2 separate regions of the Homo sapiens genome follow, and region 2 is linked to region 1. The links come from fine-mapping of genetic effects on gene expression. A gene starts in region 1. The other region holds a variant in brackets. All regions are shown on one strand. Distances are from middle to middle. Region 1 holds the start of POLR2E (RNA polymerase II, I and III subunit E). Region 2 holds the start of LOC102723798 (a long non-coding RNA gene).

The links. PIP is the estimated chance that this variant, and not a neighbour inherited with it, causes the effect.
Region 2: its variant is the best candidate, but not a certain one, in a credible set for the expression of POLR2E in whole blood (INTERVAL, PIP 0.62).

Annotation. Positions count from the first base shown.
Region 1 is chr19:1,089,809-1,099,033 of GRCh38, forward strand. It overlaps POLR2E (RNA polymerase II, I and III subunit E), which reads right to left and starts at 5,567. Exons shown (of 8, transcript NM_002695.5): 1 at 5,451-5,567; 2 at 4,096-4,270; 3 at 1,984-2,099; 4 at 1,100-1,180; 5 at 279-337; 6 at 76-154. The coding sequence starts at 5,507. RefSeq lists enhancers at 4,218-4,753, 5,511-5,600.
Region 2 is chr19:1,151,258-1,166,974 of GRCh38, forward strand. It overlaps SBNO2 (strawberry notch homolog 2), which reads right to left. Exons shown (of 32, transcript NM_014963.3): 2 at 2,927-3,145. The coding sequence starts at 3,019. It overlaps LOC102723798 (a long non-coding RNA gene), which reads left to right and starts at 12,194. Exons shown (of 4, transcript XR_007067079.1): 1 at 12,194-12,274; 2 at 12,694-12,789; 3 at 13,765-13,953; 4 at 15,484-15,717. The variant G/A (reference allele first, on the strand shown) is at 8,436.

The DNA of each region.
Region 1 (9,225 bases):
GGAGGGACAGAAGCCCCCTTCTCCGAGTGGTCAGCTCAGAGCAGCCCCAGGGCCCCTTCTCCCCACAGGGCTCACCTGCCCACGCTTTATCCCAAAGTAGCGCGCCACAGGGTCCCCCGCCTGGATCCTGGGCAGCTGGTTCTCTCGGAGCTTACTGCGAAGCACCGTCAGGAAAATGCCAGACAGGGCCGTTGGGGGGGCAGGGGTGTGTGTGGGGGGGGAACGCGGAAGTCTCGAGGGACAGGGAGGGGCGGGGCCGGTGGGGCTGGAAAGGATACTATCGGGCCAGCAGCTCTGTCACCTCCTCCTTGGTCATGACGACGTGCTCAGGGACTAGCTGCCGAGAGAGGAAGCCACCAGGCATCACCAAGGGCTGGTGAGACCCCACGTGGCTCCCAGGTGCCACCACAGCCCCTGCGCCTTCAGACGGACAAGAGCCCTGAACCCCACCCCGATCCCCGGCACTCAGGGAGCCCACCCACCCCACCCTGGCTCCACAGGCGGGGGACGGAGTCACAGCTCCTGGGGCTTCTGAGGCAGACGGGCTGGGCACAGCCACCTCCTGCTGGGACTCCTCCTGTCCCAGCACTAGGGTCCCTCCACACTCCCAGCAGTCCCGATTCTACAGGCTGGGGTGGGCCCGGGATCTGCATTTTTTTTTTTTTTTTTTTTTTTGAGATGGAGTCTTGCTCTGTCTCCCAGGCTGGAGTGCAGTGGCACAATCTCGGCTCCCCGAGTAGCTGGGACTACAGGCGCTCGCCACCACGCCTGGCTAATTTTTTTGTATTTTTAGTAGAGACGGGGTTTCACCGTGTTAGCCAGGATGGTCTGGAACTCCTGACCTCGTGATCCGCCCGCCTCGGCCTCCCAAAGTGCTGGGATTACATGTGTGAGCCACCGCGCCCGGCCGGGATCTGCATTTCTAGGAAGCTCCCGGGTTCGGCTGCTGCAGGCCCAGGGCCACCCTTTGAGAACCCTGTCCTCCATGCACTAATAGGAACACCTGCCCTGGGCCCCAGATCCCACATCTTCCTGGCCACCCACAAACGCTGCATCTCTGCCGGCCCCACGCAGGCGGGATTCCGCGGCGCGCGCCCACCTCGTGCTCCGTGATGTTGATGAGCAGCTCCTGCTGCAGAAACTGCTCCAGGATGTACTTGGGGGCCATGTCGACCAGGGACTGGAAGAGAGCGGCTCTAAGGCACGGCCCGGAGGGGCCCAGACAACCCCAACCCCATTTCCTGCCTCAAGCTACCTGGGGCTTACTCGTGTGCCCCAACAACACACCCACGTCGTGAATCAGAAAACCCCACCGCCAGCCCAGGAGCCTTCAACAGCCCGCCCCTCCCCAGCCTCTCTGCTCATCGAGAGCCTCATCCAGCAGTGAAGTGGCCGTGGAAACTCGGATGTGTTTCCATCCATCACACGCTTCCAGGGGCGGCCCTCAGAGCTGGCAGGGCGACCTCTTCCCCATACAGGGGTGCTGCTCTGTGTGGCTGCGTGAACCCCACAGCTGGTGGGCCAGGGACTAAACTGCTCTGCTGACTGCCCGTCACAGCACAGCAGCCTGGCTCCAGAGTGTCCGACAGACAGACGGGGAACACGGATAGGCCCCTGGAGGACCCCGTGCCGGGCCTCCTCTGCAAGTCCCCCTGGACATCAGCTCAGGATAAAGAACCTCCGGCTCCTGGAATCTGCACCAGGCCGAGGGCTGGAGCCCACAGGAGCTGGCGAGAGGCACAGTGCCCTCCGCCCTGACGCCCCTCCTGAGAGCTGGGGGAGGACGGCGGCTGCCTGGGGTGGGGCCCATGGACGCGGTGGGAGGGAGGCGGTCGGGGCTTGCCGGACATCCCGGCCACATCCTCCAGGGCACCCTGGCTGGCCTGGCCCAAAGCCCAAGGCACGTGGGCCGCCTGTGGGTACTGCTTGCGGGAGGAGGCTGGGGAGGGGGAGAGGCTGGCGGGGTGGGGCAGGGGTGCCCACCTGCTTGGCGGAGGGTGTCATGCCCTGCTGCACCACGATGAGAGCCCGTGTGATGTTCTCCTCCTGCATGCGCTGGCAGTACACCTTGATGGTCTTGATGCCCACCTTGGGCTCCTCTGCAGACAGAGAGTGTGCTGGCCTGCACGAGCCTGGGCCCTCGTGGCCCTCGCCCACCCAGAGCCCAGAGCACCCAGGTTCCAGCCCCATTCCACACAGGTGTCTCTCCTGCTCGGGCCTCGGCTTCCGCGTTTGCAAAACGAGGCCTGAGTTGCAGGATCCCAGGACAGGGGAAGAGAGGGCTGAAACCTCTCATTCACCCGGAGACAGGGACAGGGGGCTGACACCCCTCAGTCACCCAGAGACCAGGGAGAAGCAGAGACCTTCGACTCTGAGAGGCTCCCACCCTGGGCAGTTCTGGGGAGGCGGGTGACTCAGCACCAACCTCTCCAACAAGCAGACCTCACACCCCAGGACGCTCTCTTTAAGAAGCATCACCTGAGGCCGGGTGCGGTGGCTCACACCTGTAATCCTAGCACTTTGGGAGGCTGAGGCAGGTGGATCACTTGAAGTCAACAGTTCTAAACCGGCCTGGCCAACATGGTGAAACCCGGTCTCTATTAACAATACAGGATGGGCGCGGTGGCTCGCACCTGTAATCCCAGCACTTTGGGAGGTCAAGGTGGGCAGATCACGATGTCAGGAGATCGAGACCACCCTGGCTAACAAGGTGAAATCCCGTTTCTACTAAAAATACAAAAAATTAGCCCACGCCCGCAGTCCCAGCTACTCGGGAGGCTGAGGCAGGAGAATGGCGTGAACCCGGGAGGCAGAGCTTGCAGTGGGCAGAGATTGCGCCACTGCACTCCAGCCTGGGCAACAGAGCAAGACTCTGTCTCAAAAAAATTAATTAATTAATTAATAAACAATACAAAAAGAAAAAGTAGCCAGGTGAGATGGTGTATGCCTGTAAACCTAGCTTTTTGGGAGGCTGAGGTGGAAGGATTGTTTGAACCTGGGAGGTGGAGGTTGCAGTGAGCTGAGATTGCGCCACTGCACACTCCAGCCTGGGTGACAGAGGGAGACTCAGTCTCAAAAAAAAAAAAAAAAAAAAAGACTGGGCGCGGTGGCTCACGCCTGTAATCCCAGCACTTTGGGAGGCCGAGGCGGGCGGATCACCTGAGATTAGGAGTTTGAAAGCAGTCTAGCCAACATGGTGAAACCTCATCTCTACTAAAATGCAAAGAAAAACTAGCCAGGCGTGGTGGTGGGTGCCTGTAATCTCAGCTACTCAAGCTGAGGCAGGAGAATCGCTTGAACTCAGGAGGTGGAGGCTGCAGCAAGCCGAGATGGCACCACTGCACTCCAGCCTGGGCGACAGATTGAGACTCTTTTTCAAAAAACAAAAACAAAAAAAAAACAAAAAAACCCAGCAGCGTCACCAGGTCCGGTTGGCAGACGTGCTCCGTCACCCCACTGATTAATTCTGGGCGTGGGGCTGCGCCCCTAAGGCGCTTGCAATCCCCCAACCGCTGAGGGCTTTAGAGCCATACTAGGGAGGCAGACAGGTGCGGAGACTTCCGCAAAGCAGGTGCTGAAACCGAGGGTCCCAGGGGTCCTGGGAAAAGAGGCCCGAGCACAAGCTCGAGGGACGAGTACCGGACGCTGACAGGGGAGAGGGGGCATGGGGTGCGGAGGAATGGGCTGGGGCGGGCAGGGGCCGCAGCTCACAAGGAGGCTGCGCTGACCCAGACGGGGCCTCCTGGGCCAGGCCAAGAAGCTGGAAGTGCACCCAACGGCCAGGATGGGGGAGCCAAGGGACACTAGGGCAAAGGACATGGGGGGCTGGGGGTGAGTGGGGAGGCCCTTGTGACTCTCCTCGTTGGCAGGAAGAGAGAAGGGGACTGAGAGGGAAACTAGAAAGAAGCTGAGCATGAGAGGGGTCAGAGATCAACGGCATCACCCACAGCAAGGAAGGGGAGGGGAGTTTTCCTCCCAGACTGGGCAGAGAGACAAATGCTGGGCACCAGGCGAGTGGGGGTGGGTGCTAGCGACCGGCTCCTCGGCAGGTGCTCTGGTGGCTTCACCGGAACTCCCCCGGGACCCGCTGCTCACCTGGAAAGAACACAAACATCTGGTCGGTGGGGTCATCGTTGTGGGCCACCAGCACGGTGAGGTCCGTGCGCCGCGGCCGCCCCTCACTCGGCTTGTCCCCAGATTGGGCTTTGAACTCCTCCAGGGTCTGGTCAAGCTCGTCCTGGGTCACCAGATAGCCACGGTCGTGGCACAGCTGCAGAGAGAAAGAACCAGCTGACCCCAGGGCAGAGAGAGGAAGGCGGCCAAAGCTCGTGACCCGGAAGTCAGACCTGCGGCTGCTGCAGAGGACAGAGGTGAACAGCAAACGGGATGAACACTCACTGTGTGCTCCATGACAGCCACCCCGGCCCCCACAGCCTCACACCACAGGATGGGACCAGTATGATCCTGAGAGGCTCCCAGAGATGTCCAGCCTTGACCAAGACCGTCTGTCCACCCAGCCTCACAGAAACCTGGCAGGGAGCAAAGCCCTCCAAACCACTTTGCAGAGCTACCCTAAAGGCAGGGACAAAGGCGGGGCGCGGAGGCTCACGCCCGTGATCCCAGTACTTAGGGAGGCTGAGGCAGGAGGGTTGCTGGAGGCCAGTTCAAGGATGCAGTGAGCTATGATTGCACCACTGCACTGCAGCCTGGGCGACAGAATGAAACCCTATCTCTTAAAAAAAAAAAATGACAGGGACCGAAACAGATGTGACTTCAGGCTGACAATGTTTGAGGATCGGAGAAAGAAGAATCAGGCTGCGGGGGGCTTCGCTGAGGACAAGGGCAAAGGGTGGGAAGCAAGACAAAGCAAAAGCTCTCAAACGGCCCCAATGGCTGAGGCAATACCCTGAACCGCAGGTCCTCAGGCCTGTGCCCGGCTTCCAAACCGGACTCGACCCAGTGGCCTCCATCTGCCCCAGACCCCAAGGCACGGGTTCCGAGCTCCACGTCCCCATCGAAAGCCCCAGCTCGCCCGCTGCTTCCCAACCACCAACTCTGCCAGCCTCGGATGCTGAAGACTCCATGGGGTTCAGGACGCAAGGACAAATAGCGACGCTGAATCACAGAGAAGGGCAGAGTCTGGGGGCGCCCCCCGTCCCCATTCGCGGCTTCCTCCTCCTCTCGCCGCCACGCGCGCCGCACCAGCCCAAGCCGCCCACCCACCCCTAAGCACCGCACCCAGACGTCTCGAAACCCCCTCCCTTCCCCGCTGCCGGCTCAGGTCGGGTCCAGCGCCTGGTATCCCCGGCGACCTCTGGGCCTCCCGTATCGGCCCGGCCCTTCATCGCTGCTGCTCCGACGAGAGTACGAGGAGACGCCGTGCTCGACCCCACCTCGGGCCCCTACACCCGCCGCCCGCGCCCCCGCCCCCAACACCAGGCGCGGCTCACCTGCATGATGGTCTTGCGGATTTTCCAGAGCCGGTACGTCTCCTCCTCGTCGTCCATGGCAGCCTCCGCCGCCGCCGCCGCTCGCACCCCTTCTCCGCGCGAGAACCCGCGCGGACTGCGCCTGCGCCGAATCCGAATCAGGCCCCCTCCGCCTAACCCCGCCCCGCGCTGGTCTGTCGTCGGCGAATGCCTGAATGCAGCAACGTCTCGGATCGGCAGCGCCAAGGGCAGCCCGAGCCTTACGAGAGCGGCAGTTGGCTGAGCGAGTCTCTCGCCTCCGTAGTTCTCGTGTGTCTTTGGCCGCACAGCCTCTCGGGAGTTGTAGTTTCCGTTCAACTCCCACCTTGGAGCAACAGTTTAGAATCCCACGAGGCGGGGGCGAAGTGTGAGCGGGGAAACTGAGGCCTGGATGGGGTCAAGGGGCAGCTCGGCTCCTAGGGATGGTCTGGGAGCCTAGTGGGAACTCTATAAATATTTGTGCATCAAACTGTACAGGGTTTCCTCCATTGGCTCCTGGCCAGGTCAGGGTTAATTCCCTTGGGCCTCAGTTTCCCTACCTGTGCAATGGCAATAAAGTGTCCCTACTTTAGACGGTTAACTGAGAGTCTTAGGCATCTCTCTAGGTGCTTATTAAGTCCCCTCACCTCTGTCCTCTCCCCTGAGCGCCACCAGCCTAGCCTGGGTATCTCCCCAGCCTAGCCTGGGTATCTCCCCACCCCAGACTCTTCCTGTCTTTGCAAACCTCCTCACTTCCCCAGGTTCACGGAGAACCCCAGCCCAACACTTCCTGTGTGCAGGCTATCAGTAACTTATTCAGTGATGCATTCGTTAATTCAACATTTACTCAGCAACCTACAGTGATGGTGAATAAAACAGGCCAAGTATCCCTTGCATTCAGATAAAGACAGGATTTAGTAAAATATAATAAATAACGTGGCCGGGCGCGGTGGCTCATGCCTATAATCCCAGCACTTTGGGAGGCTGAGGCGGGCAGAGCATGAGATCAGGAGTTCAAGACCATCCTGGCTAACACGGTGAAACCCCGTCTCTACTAAAAATACAAAAAATTAGCTGGGCCAGGTGGCAGGTGCCTGTAGTCTCAGCTACTTAGGAGGCTAAGGCAGGAGAATCTCGTGAACCTGTAAGGTGGAGGTTTCAGTGAGCCAAGATCGTGCCACTGCACTCCAGCCTGGACAACAGAGCAAGACTCTGTCTCAAAAATAAAATGAAATGAAATAAAATAAAATAAATAACAACGTTAGAAAGTGACAAAGCTACGGAAGAAGAAAGAGCAGGGAGGCTAAGTGACATGGGGAGAATGGGAGAACTGCAGTATCACATGGGGAGGTCAGGGAATACAGTGAGGATAGATTCAAGCAAAAATCCCATTAGCAGTGGTGGCTCATCACTGTAATCCCAGCACTTTGGGTGGCCGAGGCAGGCAGAGCATGAGATCAGGAGTTCCAGACCAGCTTGGCCAACATGGTGAAACCCTGTCTCTACTAAAAATACAAAAATTAGCCAGGTTTGGTGGTGGGTGCCTGTACTCCCAGTTACTCGGGAGGCTGAGGCAGGAGAATCACTTGAACCCGGGAGGCGGAGGTTGCAGTGAGCCGAGATCGCACCACTGCACTCCAGCCTGGGTGACAGAGCAAGACTCCATCGAGAAAAAAAAAAAAAAATCCCATTGGGCGCGATAGCTCACACCTGTAATCCCAGCACTTTGGGAAGCTGAGAGGGGAGGATCCCTTTGTTGTAGTTTTGTAATTTTTAGTTGTAAGTCACGGACTTTTTTACACTGATATTTGAGATTCTTTTTGGGGGGCTGTCAGGGGCTACTTTTTTTTTTTTTCCTGACACGGAATCTCGCTCTGTCCCCCAGGCTGGAGTGCAGTGGCAGGATCTCGGCTCACTGCAAGCTCCACCTCCCGGGTTCACGCCATTCTTCTGCCTCAGCCTCCCGAGTAGCTGGGACTACAGGCACCTGCCACCACGCCCGGCTAATTTTTTGTATTTTTAGTAGAGACGGGGTTTCACCGTGTTAGCCAGGATGGTCTCCATCTCCTGCCCTCATGATCCGCCCGCCTCGGCCTCCCAAAGTGCTGGGATTACAGGTGTGAGCCACCCCGCCCGGTCTGTGCAGGCTTTCTTATCTAACTACCTAACTTTTCTTTCTCACCTTGAGGCCAGGAGTTTGAGACAAGCCTAGGCAACATAGGAAGACCCCATTTCTTTTTTGTTGTTGTTGTTGTTTTTTGAGACCGAGTCTCGCTCTGTTGCCCAGGCTGGAGTACAGTGGCATAATCTCAGCTCACTGCAGCCTCCGCCTCCTGGGTTTAAAGGATTCTCCTGCCTTGGCCTCCCGAGTAGCTGGGATTACAGGCGTGAGCCACCACACCTGGCTAATTTTTTTGTATTTTTGGTAGAGATGGGGTTTCACCATGTTAGCCAGGCTGGTCTTGAACTTCTGACCTCAGATCATCTGCTTGCCTCGGCCTTCCGAAGTGCTGAGATTACAGGCGTGAGCCACCGCACCCGGCCAGGAAGACCCCATTTCTACAAAAAAATTTAAAAATTAGCTGGGCGTGGTGGGCGCACCTGTAGTCCCAGTTACTCGGGAGGCTGAGGTGGGAAGATCTAGGATCGCCTGAGCCCAGCGGTTGAGGCTGCAGTGAGCTGTGATTGCGCCACTGCACTCTAGCCTGGGCGACAGAGCAAGACACTGTCTCCAAACAAACAGAAAACAAACAAAAACCAGAAGAGGAGAGGGAGGAAACCTGGGGTTGCCTGGGGATAGCTGTATCAGGCAGACAGCACAGCCAGGATAGAGGCTCTGGGGCTGTGCCTCACCTGGAGTGTTCCTGGCAGGGAAGGGGCAGGAGGGGGTCAGAGGGCAAGGTGGGGCAGGTCCCATGAAGCCTTGCTGGTCAGGGTAAAATGTCTGGAGCTGCTGTGTTGGGAAATGACTGTTGGGAGCCAGGGCAGAAGCAAGAGACCAGGGAGGGAGTGGGAAGGCAAACTTGCCACAGGTTGGGGTGGCTCCAACTACGGTAGGGGCAAGCACAGAGCGGGGAGGGTGCCACAGGGCGAGAAAAAGAGGGAGAAAGGGAACAAAGCTGTCCCTGTGAGCAGTGAAAAGAGGGGTGGGAGGGTGGAGGCGTGTAGGTCGAGGTGAGCTCTGGAGTTCAGGGCAAGGTCTGGGGGATGGACGTGCAGGCAGGGTGGCCACGTGGTGAAGATTAGAGCCGGGAGCCTGGACCAGGTCCTGGGAGCAGAGCAGAGTCCAGGAGAGTAAGTCCAGCCCTGCTGGTGTTCAGAAGCCCGGAGAAGGAGGGGAGGCAGCAGCAGGAGGGGAGGGAGGCTCAGCACAGACACTGGAGCAGCCCCTGAGCTGCAGACCTGGCTGTGTGATCTCAGGCAGGTTACTCAACCTCTCTGTGCGTCCCCTCTCCCCTCCCTTGTAAAACAGGGACAAGAACAGCACCCACTTCGTAGGGTAATTGGCTAATAATTGCAATGTACACAGAGTGGCGCCTGACACCAGCACTGCATAAGTGTTCCCTAAATAGGATAAAGGGCAGGAGGTTGCCAGGTCTCCTGGAAACCTGGTGAGGAAGGTGTCTAGGGGCAGAGGGAAGGGAGTGGCTATGTGATGCCACCGCCAAGTCAGCCTGAGGACTGAGCAGGGATTCGCCTAGCAGACATTGCTTGTGACTCAGGGAAGGGGGCCAGTGCCTGGCAGGACGGATTTGAGGGAGGAGAGGAATTGGAGATG
Region 2 (15,717 bases), 65 kb after region 1:
GCTGGGCAGGGCCACGGCCAGGGAACTGCAGCTGCAGGAAGGGGGCGGGGGGCTTGGGGTCGCAGGGCGGGAGGATCCAGGGGTCCCTGGCTCACCCAACATGCTCCACCTGTACCCAGGCCAGGCTAGGGGATGGGACGGGGGGAAAGTCCTGACTGCCTCTATCCCCCTAGTCTCCTCCCTCCCACAGCCCATGGCTCCTCTGAGACCTGCCATCCACACACACCCGAGTCCCACCCCACAGGGGTGCCATGGGCATGGCAGGCCAATCAGAGTCTTCCCTGGGACCTTCTCTGGCAGCCAGAGGGTGTGGCTTCACCTTTAGATGGCAGGTCCTAGCACATAATTGGTCCAGAGATGGGCACCTGACCCTGCCCAGACAATCAGAGCCTGCCTGGTGATTTTCTTTCCTTTCCTTATTTTGAGACGGAGTCTCACTCTGTCACCCAGGCTGAAGTGCAGTGGCACGATCGTGGCTCACTGCAACCTCCACCTCCCGAGTTCAAGCGATTCTCCTGTCTCAGCCTCATGCGTAGCTGGGATTACAGGCGCCCGCCACCACGCCCAGCTAACTTTTGTATTTTTAGTAGAGATGGGATTTCATCATGTTGGCCAGGCCGGTCTCGAACTCCTGACCCCAAGCAATGTGCCCACCTCGGCCTCCCAGAGTGCTGGGATTTCAGGCGTGAACCATTGTGCTGGCCGGTGTATTTTTATTTCTAATTGAATACTCTGGGCACTGGAAGAGGCTGGGCTGTGCGTGTGCGAACTCAGTCGACCCTGCCCAGAGGTGTCCATGACGTACCCGAATGTGACGGAACCCGGAACAGGGAGGGTGGGATGAGCCTCACACACGGGATGGGGAGCAAAGCCGGTTACGCGCACGGGTGCGCCCCGGCCTGAGCCCTGTGGCTGGTGTCCAGTGCCCCCGCCGGGTTCCAGCCCTGTCGCATTCCCCGACTGTCACTGCTAACACCTTCCTGCTCCCGCTCGGATCCTTGAAGATGGCTCCTCTGTCTCCACATCCCATAATTCGCTTAATTATTTCCCCACCGTAGAGCCTCTGGGGAGATTCCAGTTTCCTGCCACTATAAATAGTGCCGCTCTGTCTTCCCCTCCCTCCTGGATTAGTCCCCAGGGTGTGTTTCCGAGATAGAATTCTTGGATCGGAACAAGCTCCTGGCGGGTTTCGGGGGATGGAGCTGTTCCGGTGGGGATGTGGCTTGGCCAGTCCCCTTTATGGTGGCCCAGGAGGCTGACCGACGGCCGGTACTCGAGCTCCACCGGGGCAGCTGTGAGGATCCAGCCTCAACCCCAAGGGACTCAGGAACTAGGGAGGGGGACAGGAGGGGTCTGGGCCGCAACAGGGACCCTGCTACGAGAGGGGTACCCTGGCCCCAGCTCAGAGCCCCCTCTGGACGGTCAGAACATGGCAGGAAGCTGCCCAAAGCCCTCTGAGGATGGACTGCCGAGGGGTGTCTGTGATGTTCGCCCCACAGGCCAACCTGGGTGTTGGGCTAGGGAGTACCCAGGAGACCCTGGAGTCCTGGAGCAGGTCCTGCTGCTTGATAGGAGAGGGCAGCCCCTCTGTCTCCAGGTAAATCCCCAGGCAGGGCCGGGCGCGGTGGCTCACGCCTGTAATCCCAGCACTTTGGGAGGTCAAGGCAGGCGGGTCAACTGAGCCCGGGAGTTTGAGACCAGCGTGTCCAACGGGGCAAAACCTCATCTCTACGAGAAAATTTTAAAAATCTGCCGGGCATGGTGGCGCGTACCTGTGGTCCCAGCTACTCAGGAGGCTGAGGCAGGAGAATCACTAGCCCAGGAGGCAGAGGCTGCAGTGAGCCGAGATCGCACCACTGCACTTCCAGCCTGGGCAACAGAGTGAAACCGTGTTTTAAAAATAACAAAACAAAATAAAATAAAATGAAATAAAATAAAAATAAATATATATATACACGTTTATATATTTTTAATTTAAAAATTTTTTTTTTTCTTTTTGAGCCACAGTTTCGCTCTGTCACCCAGGCTGGAGTGCAGTGGTGCAATCTCTGCTCACTGCAGCCTCTGCCTCCCAGGTTCAAGCGATTCTCCTGCCTCAGCCTCCCAAGTAGCTGGGATTACAGACACCTGCCACCACGCCAGGCTAATTTTTTGTATTTTTAGTAGAGACAGGGTTTCACCATGTTGGCCAGGCTGGTCTCAAACTCCTGACCTCAAGTGATCTGCCCGCCTTGGCCTCTGAAAGTGCTAGGATTACAGGCGTGAGCCACCGTGCCAGGCCTATTTTTCATTTTTTTGAGATGGAGTCTCACTCTTGTCGCCCAGGCTAGAGTTCAGTGGCGCCGTCTCCACTCACTGCAGCCTCTGCCTCCTAGATTTAAGCAATTCTCCTGCCTCAGCCTCCCGAGTAGCTGGGATTACAGGCGTCCGCCACCACGCCTGGCTAAGTTTGGTATCTTTAGCAGAAGCGAGGTTTCACTATGTTGGCCAGGCTGGTCTTGAACTCGGGACCTCAGGTGATCTGCCCACCTCCACCTCCCAAAGTGCTGGGATTACAAGCACGAGCCACTTGGCCAGAAACATATTTTTTAAGTAATTCCCTCACTGACAGGTTCCTACAAGTAAAGTTGAGCCCCCCCTACAGCTGACGGCGAAGGAACTGGAAGCTCTGCAGCAGGGAGAATCTCCTCAAATGTGCTTCTTGAAAAGCTGGGGCCATGAGTAGCCTCCCATTCACATCCCCATGGGGACCCTTCTCCAGGGCCCACGGGGGCGGGTGGAGCCGGGCTCCGGGCCAGGAAGGTCAGGTGGAGATCACGCCGCGTCCACTGGGGCAGCATTCCGCACGACGTGACCCCGGGCACTCGGAGCGGGGCAAGTGCCCGTGGACCCCGTCGGGTGGGCCGGGGCCGGGGGTGGGGCTCACCTGCAGGGGCGGCGGGCTGTACAGGAGGCTGCCCGCCGGCGGGGGTTCATGCTGCGGGTAATCCCTGTCCATGGCGGGCCCCACTGCAAGCATCGGGCGGCAGGCGGGGTGGGGTCCTCGGCCGGGCAGCAGGCGGCGGGACTCCAGGACCCGGGGCCGCCGGGGCGTCTATCTGGGCTTCTCGCTCCGTGGTGGCGGCGGTGGCGGCAGCATCATGATCTGCAGAGGGAGACGGGGACGTCCTGAGAGTCCAACGGTGGTGGAGAGTGGTGCTCCCCGGCCGCCTCTCCCTCGGGCATGACCGGTCCCAGCCTGGGCTGCAGCTCCTGCTACCTCCTGGGCCGGAACCAAAAGGCGCTCCTTCCCCTCCCCACTCACCCCCACCCGCCATCAGCAGTGCCACCCAACTCCTTTGTGCTGCCCACAGCGCCTTTCCTGGCCTCCCCGGCCCCAACTACAACGATTAAGGTGGGCCCGACAGGGCTGCCCAGGTCACAGGGCAGCCGTAGGACCAGGCACCCAGACTGTGAGCAGTGGAGCTGCAGGCTGACTCCCCCACATCTGGCTTTGTCAGCAGCCGGTGTGAGACTGTGGAGGGAGAGTCCAACCCGGGCCCGGCACCCAGGGGAGCCCAGGGGACACTGGACCCAGCCCTGTCCCTCAGAGGCAGCAGGGGCTCCACAGTGAGGTCTCCCAAGGAGGGGGGTCAGGGGCCACGCAGAGCTGGAAGAGCACCCAGACCTCGTTTCAGGCTAATCACACACCAGCATCCCCACTGAGAACGTTCCTGGGCTACAGAGCCGAGCCCCACACCATCAGACGCCAGGGACAGCTCCCACGTGCCCCGCGGCCTCTGGCACACGGCCAGACGCCCGCCAGGCTGAGCCCCCACCAGGCCCTACCTGGCGAGTGCAGGGACCCAGGCTGGCCCGTGGTGGCAGGGAAAGCTTTCCAGGCGTCCGCCCAGCATGCTCACTGCCGAGGGCGGCAGGAAGGGGAGGCGGCGGCCACTCCCGGCCAAGCCCTGGAGTGAAGAAATCTCCGGGACTTCCAGTAATTGCCGTCCAGCCACACGCAGGCACTTGTGCAATCCCGTGGGGGAGAGGCACGTCTCTGCCCGGCGCTCCAGAGACAGTGGCCGGGCAACAGGGGCTGGGGGTCGGGACTCCTGTCCCAGAGACCAGATGGAGGTGGTCAGGCACAGTGGGGGTCACCCTGCCAGGCCGTCCCAACTGTCCGCGGCCTCTGCCTGCTCCCTGCAGTCAGGACGCTACAACCCACTGCCACCAGAGCTGGGACCCTTGGCAGCCCTTCCAGCTGCCCACGGGGACCTGCGACACCCTTGCCAGAACGGCCCTTTAGGGGAAGGGACAGGCCCGCTGGGATCTGGGGTCTTGGCCAATCCTTGTCAAAGATTCTGGGTCAGGCAGGATCAAAGCCTGGCTCCACCTTCTGAGTTGAATAACCTCAGACACCCAAGCTCCTCCAAGCCTCGGTATGTTCCTCTGGGAGACAGGTTCTCTGGGTAGAGCCTGGGACCCCCCGACCCCGGCCCCGTGTGCTGGTGGCCACAAACAGCTCTGCTGGGCCCAAGGCAGCTGCTGATACCGGGGTCCCCATCCAGGGGCCCACCAGTGCTAGGGGGTGGCCCACCCCCTGCCTTGGGGCTCAGCAGCCCCTCCCCTGCAGGGACTCCCCTCAGCTCCTGTCAGCACCCCTTCCTGCTGCAGGTTCCATCTCACGGCAGCCACAGCCCCAGAGCTACGCTGACCTTTTCCACACTCAGGGCGCTCCTCAGCTCTGAGGCCACACAGTCCTGAGCTGATGGGCAGCAGGGCCCAGGCCCCACGGTGGACGGAGCTTGGGGAGGGGGCACCTTGGGCAGCTCTGGGGCGACCCCATGACCGTCCTCGGGGTACACCATAGCTGAGGGACCCCTCCAGCAGCAGGGGCCCTGAGCTCGCCTGTGTCCGAGTCCCCTAGGCCAGCACGGTGCTCCTGGCAGCTCCTCCCTCCCTACGGTCTCTGAGCCCCCCACGTCTGTGGACGCCCCTTCCAGGCGGCAACCCCAGGAGGCTCAGGGGACCGGGTTCTTCAAGGGGAGGGCTTCACACATGGCATGTGACCTGGAGTCCATGCCTTGGGGACCTGGCAGGGTGTGGAGACCTGGACCGGGAGGGGATGGGGGCAGGAGAACAATGCGGACACCAGGCACAACCAACCAAGAGTCAGGGCCCAAAACCAGGAGGCGGAGGCGGAGGCGGATCCTCACACACGGCTGCTTGGCAGTCTGGGATTCCTCAAGAGGCTAACGCTGGAGTCACCACACCACCGAGCAATTCCACACCACACAGAAACGTGGCCATGCACGTCCACAGCAGCACCACTCACAACAGCCACCCGAGGAAGCAGCCCAGTGTCCACGGATAGGCGAGTGGACCAGCATGTGGCGTGGCCCATCCACGTGCCAGAACACGACACAGCCATGAACAGCAGCGAGGCCGACCTAGGCCACAGCGCAGACGCACCTTGAGGACGTCACGCTCTGTGAGAGACGCCAGGCACAGATGTGTGTGATCCCACTACTATGCACTGTCCAGGACGGGCCCATCCAGAGACAGAAGGGGATGCGTGGGTGCCGGGCTGGGGCGACCCTGCACCCGGGGCCCATTTCCAAGTCCCCCCACAACCCAACACTTCAGGCTGTGCCCACTCCTGAGAACGCCCACCCTCTGCAATCCCCCAGGACCCGCCACTCCTGAGAACGCCCACCCTCTGCAATCCCTCAGGACCCACAGCCCTGCCTTTCCGCCCACTGCCAGCCCCCCATCGCCTCCCACCCTGTCCTCGGCCATATCTCACAACCCCTGCTGCCCCGATCCCCAGGCCCTCCCGCAGCCCCCAGCCCCTAGCCCTGCCTGCAGACTCGGTCCTGTCCGAGGGCCCACGCCCCCAAGGGCTGGCTCCCACCCCATGGTCCTGAGCCCTCCGGACCCTTCCCCCATTGACTCCGCCGCCGTTTCTTGCAGCAGCTGTGACCACGCCATGTCTCTGGGGCATCCAGCTGCCCCAATCCCCAGGATAAACCCTAGTGGGACACTGGGTGGGGTCTTGGGGCCTGAGAACACCCCAACGCAGCCTCTGCCACGCAGCCCCGGAGACGCTCTCCCCACGCGGCCCCGGAGACCCTCTGCCACGCAGCCCCGGAGACGCTCTCCCCACGCGGCCCCGGAGACCCTCTCCCCACGCGGCCCCGGTGACACGGCCCACCCCGAGCCTCAGAGCCACGGGCCAGCCAAACGTCCAGCGGGCAGCAGAGCGTGTCCCCTGCCTGGTTTTATTTTTGGGCGCGAGTCCCATGACTGGAGGGATGCGTGGTGTGGGGGTTGGGGGGGCGGGGGTCACACGGTTCCCACCTTGGGAGGGGGCCCGCGCTTTATCAGCACGCTGACACCCAGAGGGGATGTGGCTTCCTTCTGAAATCAGGTCTTCAAGGGAGTCGTTGTAAAAGAGAACGATGAAGGTGCTGGTGGCCCAGACAGGACAACCACTGGGAAGGCAGAACCTCAGACAGGACCAAGATCCGGGAGAATCCGAGGAACCGGGTAACTGTGTCCGCCTCCCAGCTCTCTCCTGAGTCCGGGTAACTGCGTCCGCCTCCCAGCTCTCTCTCTTGAGTCCGGGTAACTGCATCTGCCTCCCAGCTCTCTCTCCTGAGTCCGGATAACTGTCCGCCTCCCAGCTCTCTCCTGAGTCCGGATAACTGTCCGCCTCCCAGCTCTCTCCTGAGTCCGGATAACTGTCCGCCTCCCAGCTCTCTCCTGAGTCTGGGTAACTGCATCTGCCTCCCGTCTCTCTCTCCTGAGTCCGGGTAACTGCGGCCGCCTCCCGCCTCTTTCTTCTGAGCCTGCTGAAGTCCCCGTCTTCCTGGCTGGACGCCCCAGGGTCTCACCCCACGCTGTGCAGCAACAGCTCAGCCTCCTGATGTTCAGAACTGGCCACTGTGCGGACCCTCCCCCTGGGGGTCCCTGAGCACCTGTCGTGTGGAGCCCCTTCGCGCGCTCCGCCCTCAGACCCGAGCCGTCTGCAGATGGGGAGCTGTGTCCTCGGAGCCCGGTTCTCCTGCCGTCCTCTCGCCGAGCAGGGTTGTGACCCCCGCACTTTCGGATGTGGACACGGAGGCCCCTAGGTGGAGCCTTGACGTGACCCCCAGAGCCAGACTCAGCAGCTCAGGCCACGCTGTGCCCACGTTCGCGACGGCAAAGCGGAGACCCTGAGAAGACACTGGCCGCAGAGCCATAACCGAGACCACGGGAGGACCCAGGGCGCACGGCACACCCCAGAGCGCTCCGCCCAGGCCCGGGTTCTGGTCTCCTGGCACACCCGGCAGCATCTCAAGGCCTGCGCCAGCAAAGGCGGACATGGAGGTCTGAGGAGGAGGCGGCGAGGCCCGGGCGAGCGGGCGCGACCGTGGTGATGGAGCCCGGCAGAGGCCACCGCACAGTCCCTGGAGGCCGCATTACCTCAGCCGAGGTTCTCCGGGCAGGCACAAGGCGCTCCCTGCGTCCCAGGACCTGAAGATGGCAAGGAGCAGGCCCCCGGGTGTCCCGGGAACCCCGCACAGAGCCACGGCCATAAGACAGAGCGGACTTGCGGCCTCCGGTGACCTCACAGCCGTGATGGCCTCCTGCAGCTGTGACCGCCGCCCCACAGCCGCGACCCCACCTGCAGCCGTGACCCCACCTGCAGCCGCGACCCCACCTGCAGCCGTGACCCCACTTGCAGCTGCAACCGCCGCCCCACGGCCGTGACCCCACCTGCACCCGCGACCCCACCTGCAGCCATGACCCCACCTGCAGCCATGACCCCACCTGCGGCTGCAACCGCCGCCCCACAGCCGTGACCCCACCTGCAGCTATGACCACCGCACACTGGCCTCCAGATGGGCTCAAGACAGGGCAATCACCCTCTACCTGGCGGGCGCACAACTCGCATCCTAGGACCGGGTGCAGGGGGCGGGGGCTGGCGATTTCACAAGGCTCAGCTAATATGGGGCAGAGAGCCCTGCAAGCTCAGGCACCTGGGCAGGCCCCAACTCGGCCGCCAGGACCGTCTGGTGGGGAGGACACTGCAGGCCGTCTCAGGTCCTGACCCCTGCAGACAGAGCGCTTCGTCCCTCAACATGGAGCCCGGGGCAAGGGAGGCCTGAAGGGCTGGAGCCAAGGGAGGGTCAGCCCAGTGAGAGACCTTGGGGGGACGGGGGTAGCAAGAGGGGGTAGCAAGGGACAGTTGGGGACAGCAGGGGACAGTGGGGGGACAGGGGGCAGCAGGGGACAGTTGGGGACAGCAGGGGACAGTGGGGGGACAGCAGGGGACAGTGGGACAGCGGGGGAAGAGCAGGGGACAGTGGAGGGACAGCAGGGGACAGTGGGGGGCAGTGGGGGGACAGCGGGGGATGGTGGGGGGACAGCAGGGGGACAGTAGGGAAACAGTGGGGGATAGTGGGGGG[G/A]CAGCGGCGGATGGGACAGCGGGGGGACAGCAAGGGACGGGGTGACAACAGGGAGACAGCGGGGAGATGGGGACAGCGGGGGGCAGTGGGGGACAGTGGGGGAACAGCGGGGGGACAGTGGGGGGACAGGAGGGGACACATTCAAGACATCCGTGAGGTTCCCCTACTCCTGGGCCAAGGTGCCTGCCTGAGAGGACTTCGCCCCCCACAGAGCTGGGCAGTGGCAGAGGAGGGGGCCAGGGAAGGGAGGTGGGTGAGGGAGACCCCAGAGTGTCCGGCGCTGCCCCTGCCCACGCCAGTGCTGCTCTCTGCAGCCATCAGCCTCCGGGTGCCCCCGCCTGCCCCGCCACGCGGCCACATTCCCGCACCACCCTCTCACACGTTCCACCCCAGGGGCAGCACCCGCCCTCTGGCTGTGGGTGCTGGTGGGCAGCTTGCGCCTGGCACCTGTTTGTGATGGGGGAAGCTGCCCCGGCAGCGAGGCTGAGGGAGCGGGAAGGGCTGGGCCTGGCAGAGGAAGAGCAGCCGCTCACCCACATCCCTGCAGCCCGGCTGGGGCCCAGCAAGCCGCTCACGGTCCCCAGGCCCTCATGGGCAGCCCCCCACCCACTGGGTACATCCAACTTCATGCACCAAGAGCCCATGAAGAAACCACTCCCACACCCCTGCCCAGGCCTCGGGGGGTCTGCGGGGCGGCCTCACAGGAGGCCCAGTATTACAATGGCGGCCGCCTGGCTGCAGTGAGTGCCTGGTGGACACCCCCGAAGGGCAGTGGGGAGACCCGGGGGAGGACGCACAGAGGGTGGCTACAGAACAGAGGCAGCTGGCTGGAGCCACCGGGGGTCTCGTCCCTGCAGCCTTCGCCTCCTGGGTTCCAGTGATTTTTGTGGACCCACTGGGGGTCTCGGCTCACTGCAGCCTTCGCCTCCTGGGTTCCAGTGATTTTTGTGCCTCAGCTTCTGGAGTAACTGGGATGACAGGCACCCGCCACCACGGCCCGGATAATTTGCGTATTTTAGTAGAGAAGGGGTTTCACCATGTTGCCCAGGCTGGTCTCGAACTGCCGATTTCAGGTGATCCGCCCGCCTCGGCCTCCCAAAGTGCTGGAATTACAGGCGTGAGCCACCAGGCCCGGCCCGAATGGAAATCATTTTCATAGTAACATGAATCTCTGTAACTCACTAGACTGTGGCCAGGGAAACCTGTGGGCAGCTCTGCCAGGACCACAAGGGGGCATTTGCTCTGGACGGCCCCTCCCAGGGTGGGCAGGGCCCGAGGACGGAAAGAAAGGGTGGAGGGTCCTGAGGTGCTTCCCAGAAAGCTCAGGCTGCTCCTCCAGCCAGGCACAGCCAGACCGGGAGCACCGGGAGGTGGGGGTGGGGGTGCCTGAGCACTGGAGGCTGGAGGTGGGGGTGGGGGTGCCTGAGCACTGGAGATGGAGGTAGGGGTGCCTGAGTACTGGGGGTGGGGGTGGGGGTGCCTGAGTACTGGGTACTGGGGGTAGGGGTGCCTGAGCACTGGGGGTGGGGGTGGGGGTGCCTGAGTACTGGGTACTGGGGGTAGGGGTGCCTGAGCACTGGGGGTGGGGGTGCCTGAGCACTGGAGATGGAGGTAGGGGTGCCTGAGTACTGGGGGTGGGGGTGCCTGAGTACTGGGTACTGGGGGCGCCTGAGTACTGAGTACTGGGGGTGGGGGTGCCTGAGTACTGGGTACTGGGGGTGCCTGAGTACTGGGTACTGGGGGTAGGGGTGCCTGAGTACTGGGGGTGGAGGTGGGGGTGCCTGAGCACTGGGGGTACCTGAGCACTGGGGGTGGAGATGGGGGTGGGGGTGCCTGAGCACTGGGGGGGTGGAAGTGGGGGTGGGAGTGCCTGAGCACTGGGAGCTGGGGGTGGGGGTGCCTTCCTGTCTCAACACAGCTTTACCTCTTGGGCCCGATGAAGCGGGTCTCAGGATGCCCAGGACCCACATTTTAGGAACGGCCACGTCATACTACGCTTTCTACCTCTCCTCTTGAAATTTTCTAAAAGTTCTCAAGTCTGCTGCCAAGGTTATCAGAACTGCGTAGGGAGCTGTGTGGGTCACCTGTGAGGCCCGGAGCCTCCCTGACGCAGGTGGTGGGTGTCATGGCTCTGCTGTCTTGTGAAAGAGTCGTCAGTCAGGCGGCAGGGCCAGGAGGGTGAAAGCCGATCCACTCCCTTCCCTGGGGAGCCGCGGGGGGGGGGGGGGGGGGGTTGGGCCAGGCCTGCGGGGAGGAGCCGACATACAGCTTCCCCAGCAGCCGGCCAGACAGACGGACGTCCTGGCCCAAGGTGAGCGGGCACGGCCACAGATGGCGCCTGGGGCCTTTGCAGGCGCCCTCCTGGCCCCGAGGCTGTGGGGCTCCTTTGTGGGGGACACAGGGCTCAGGGACCACTCCACACCCTAGACGGGAGCAGGGATGGGGTCTTTTAAAGTTAAGGTTTTATTCTTTTTTAAAATAATACAGCCGGGAACAGTGGCTCACACCTGTAATCCCAGCACTTTGGGAGGCCAAGGCGGGTGGATCACGAGGTCAGGAGATCGAGACCAGCCTGGCTAACACGGTGAAACCCCGTCTCTACTAAAAAATACAAAAAATTATCCAGGCGTGGTGGCGGGTGCCTGTAGTCCCAGCTACTCGGGAGGCCGAGGCAGGAGAATGGCGTGAACCCGGGAGGCGGCGCTTGCAGTGAGCCGAGATCGGGCCACTGCACTCCAGCCTGGGTGAAAGAGCGAGACTCCGTCTCAAAAAAAAAAAAAGAAACGCTGTTGGGGGCAGGAGCCTGGATCTCAACCCCTGCAAGGTGGAAATCTGGCTTCCTCTCACCCATACGAGCCTGCCAGAGGCAGGAGGCTGACGCCCCGGAGGGACCAGCTGACATCGGCCTTGAGGGACCAGACTTCTCCAGGCCGGCAACCTTCTCCCAGCTTTGTGAGGTGGAGCCCAACCTCCAGACCAAGAGAGGCCTTCCTGACCTTCAACCCCATCTCCAGAGCTCCCCAGAGCTGGTCTAGCCCCTCATCTGACACACAGAGAAACGGAGACCAGGAACCTGACGCTGGTTTCCCTAGCCCATGTGAGGACCCTGTAGACCAGCTACATGCACACCCAGTCCAGCCGCCGGACAGCGTTCAGTGGGAAGAGAGCAGACCATCGTCCACCCACATTCCAGACTCCAACTGGCAGAGGGGAGGGGACGTTGGGGCTGCAGGGCCACCAATGTGGACGGGACAGAGCCCCAGGGACAGCCTGTGCTGGGGACGTATGGGGGCAGGATCAGACCCCACAGTGCCTGCGGGCCACAAGGCCAAGACAGGATCTGGTAAGTGACGATTTGGAGGCTGGTCCTGAGGTGCAAGAGGGAGTGCCAGGGACAGAGAGGGCACCGGGGTGACTACAGTCCCTCCAGACTCACATCTACCCGCACCTGTGGGTGGGGCCTTATTTGCATACAGGGTCTTTGCACACGTGGTTGGTTACAATGAGGATGCTGGAGGGGGTGGTCTGTGTCCCTGTTAACAACTCATGTCCTTAAGAGAAAAGAGGAACGTGGACACCCACACATCGGGAGACGGCCGCATGGAGACGGAGCAGAGGCTGGAGTGACGCGGCCGCAGACCAAGGGCGCCTGGAGCCCCGGAAGCTGGGAGGGGCAGGAAGGGTCCTCCCCTGGAGCTACTCCTTGACCTCAGCTTCCTGTGGCCTCCAGGACAGGGACAGGCTGCTCTAAGCCACCCAGTTTGCAGCACTGCTGCGGCCGCCACGAGAAGCTCGTCCAGGGAGGAGGCTGCTCCAGCCCTGAGCCCCACGCGACTCCCGTGAGCACGAGGACTCGGGTGCCCTGGGGTGAGGCGGCACGAGGCTGTCTGTGGATTTCCACAGCATCCCAGGAGGCGTCTGGACCGCAGTGGCTCCAGGCTGCCAACCACGGGCAGAGGCCACCGCTCCCGAGCTTGGACCCTGCCACGCGCAGGCACAGGCCAGGCGGCGCCGGGGAAGCCTGGGGGCCCCAGACCGGCCCAGCACCGCCTGACATTTCTCAAGCATGCTGGGGGACGGCCCCTCAATTTAGGATGAGGACGAGGTGGGCCCGGCAGGAGGGCAGGAGCCGGGGTCCAGGGCGAGCAAGTTCTCCCCGCCCCACGAGGAACGGCAGTGGCCCCGGTTGCCTGGAGGTGGAAGGGGCACTGCAGCCTCACCGCCCCATACCCCAGGAGCCCACGTGCTTCTCTCACAGGGAAAGGTGTACTGGCCAGACTCAGCGCCCTGAGGACGGGGTCGGAACCCAGCGCCCAGGAAGCTCCCCTCCCCCCGACCAAGGACCTCCCTCCAGGTGGGTCCTCTGGAAACTCAGGCCCGCGGCCATCACGGCCCCTCTCCTGGGAGGGCTCAAGGGTGTTGGCCGTGGGGGCTTCACACTGCACCCCGATTTCGAGGGAAGCCCCTGCCCATGGCTTCCGGGGCCTTCCGGAGGGGCCAAGGGGCTGGTGCCATGGGAGGGAAAGTTCCCAAGCTCGGAGATGGCCAGGAGCAGGAACAGCTTGAGCGGGTGGCCGAACTGACAGCTTCTCTTGCCAAACCTCCTGTCCTGCTCCAGCACAAAGCCTCCCCCGTGCACAGGAACAGGTGCTAGGACACTGTGGGGACGTCCCAGATGCCAGGGGCAGTGGAGACAGGAGGAGGAGGAGGAGGAGGAGGAGGAGGAACAGGAGGAGGAGGAGGAGGAGGAGGAGGAGAAACAGGTGCTAGGACACTGTGGGGACGTCCCAGATGCCAGGGGCAGTGGAGACAGGAGGAGGAGGAGGAGGAACAGGAGGAGGAGGAGGAGGAGGAGGAGGAACAGGTGCTAGGACACTGTGGGGTGTCCCAGATGCCAGGGGCAGTGGAGACAGGAGGAGGAGGAGGAGGAACAGGAGGAGGAGGAGGAGGAGGAACAGGAGGAGGAGGAGGAGGAACAGGAGGAGGAGGAGGAGGAGGAGGAAGAACAGGAGGAGGAGGAGGAGGAACAGGAAGAGGAGGAGGAGGAGGAACAGGTGCTAGGACACTGTGGGGACATCCCAGATGCCAGGGGCAGTGGAGACAGGAGGAGGAGGAGGAGGAGCAGGAGGAGGGAGGAGGAACAGGAGGAGGAGGAGGAACAGGAGGAGGAGGAGGAACAGGAGGAGGAGGAGGAACAGGAGGAGGAGGAGGAGGAGGCACAGGAGGAGGAGGAGGAGGCACAGGAGGAGGAGGAGGAGGAACAGGAGGAGGAGGAGGAACAGGAGGAGGAGGAGGAGGAGGCAGCGGCGGCACTGTGGGTCTTCCACAGGGTGTGCCCGGAGGAGGTCAAGACTCCACTGCCCTGAAGCAAACAAGGCGTCCAGCCCGAGCCAGGGTCACACGCCCAACAGGTAGGATCCAGCAACCCCTGCGCAGCAGCCCCCGCCATGCGAGGGAGGACCCGGAGTTGAGCGTGGCCCTGCCTGACATCTGACCCCGCCGTCAGGAGCTCCACCAGGTCAGGGCTGCTCAGCTGACCCCACAGCCCCACCAGGCATGGTCAGCACGGTGCCGAATGCAGGCCTGGAAAGGGAATAAAGGAGGCCCTGGGGAGGGGCCTTGGTGCTTCATCCCAAGCCAACCCCGAAAGTGGAAGCCACAGGGCCAGGGGGACGTCGTGGCTGAGATGCGAGCAGGGTGCCGGGCACCCCCAAGGCAGCACTGCTGTCCCTGAGAACAGAAGGAAGTCCAGGCCCAGAGTCAGAGCCAAGTGGAGTAGTGGTGGTTGCTGGCACTCAGTCCCGTACCCTTGGACAGAGCAAGAGTCCCAAGCCAGGAATGTGAGGCCGATGCCTTTTAGGAAGAAACCACATCTGGGGAACCAGACCCCAGATCCCAGAACCCAGACCTCAGATCCCAGATCCCAGATCTCAGACCCCAGATCCCAGACTTCAGATCCCTAGATCCCAGACCCCAGACCCCAGTACCCAGACCCCAGATCTCAGACCCCAGACCCCAGATCTCAGACCCCAGATCTCAGACTCCAGACCCCAGATCTCAGACCCCAGACCCCAGATCTCAGACCCCAGATCCCAGACCCCAGACCCCAGATCCCAGACCCCAGATCTCAGACCCCCAGACCCCAGATCCCAGATCTCAGACCCCAGATCCCAGACCCCAGACCCCAGATCCCAGACCCCAGATCTCAGACCCCCAGACCCCAGATCCCAGATCTCAGACCCCAAACCCCAGATCCTAGATCTCAGACCCCAGATCCCAGATCCCAGACCGCAAGATCCCAGACCCCAGATCCTAGATCCCAGACCTCAGACCCCAGACCCCAGACCCCAGATCCCAGATCCCAGACCCCAGACCCCCAGATCTCAGATCCCAGACCCTAGATCCCAAACCCCAGATCTCAGACCCCAGATCCCAGACTTCAGATCCCCAGACCCCAGATCCCAGACTTCAGATCCCCAGACCCCAGATCCCAGACTTCAGATCCCCGGATCCCCAGATCCCAGACCCGAGATTCCAGACCCCAGATCCCAGACCCCAGCCCAGAGGGAGGCCCGGTGAGGGAGTGGAAAGGAGATTCCACGACACAAATGCTTATGCGGAAACAGCCTCCAGGCCGGGCTGCGGGGCTCCAAAGCAGGGTCCCCATGCTCCGAGCGGGCCTCACTGCTACCTGGCGGTTAAAGGCCTGTCCGCCTGGACAGGGTGGTGCGGCTTTCTGTGGCAGCCAAGCAGCTTCCACGCGGCTTCTGCTGCTGTGAGGAGCCCGCTCGGGTCTTGTGTTTATTTTCAGTCTTTTGGGGCCAGTGCGGTGGCCCGTGGCTGTAATCCCAGTGCTGGGAGGACTGCGTGAGCCCAGGAGGTGGAGACCAGCCTGGGCAACAGAGCGAGACCGCAACTGCACGCGCACACACACACACACACACACACACACACACACGCTAAAAGCCACACACGCTAAAAACCTTTTAACATGCTGAGCTTGAGCCTGTGGTCCCCTCTAACCTACACGTCTTTTTCTCCTGAGCAGACGTTAAGCTAAATCCCCACTCACTCCAGACTTCCGGTCCTTTGAAATGGAGGTGCCCTTGTGTGTCTTCAATCCATGTGGAGGGTAGTCTGGCCCATCCCACACCTGCTACTGTCACTGCCTCACATCAGCGGCCTCAGGCCACAAGGTCTCCCCACCTGGCTCCTTGGGGAGTGCCAAGCGTTGCCAGCAGCCGGGCTATGCTGATCCCAGACAAGTGGCTCGACCGGTCAC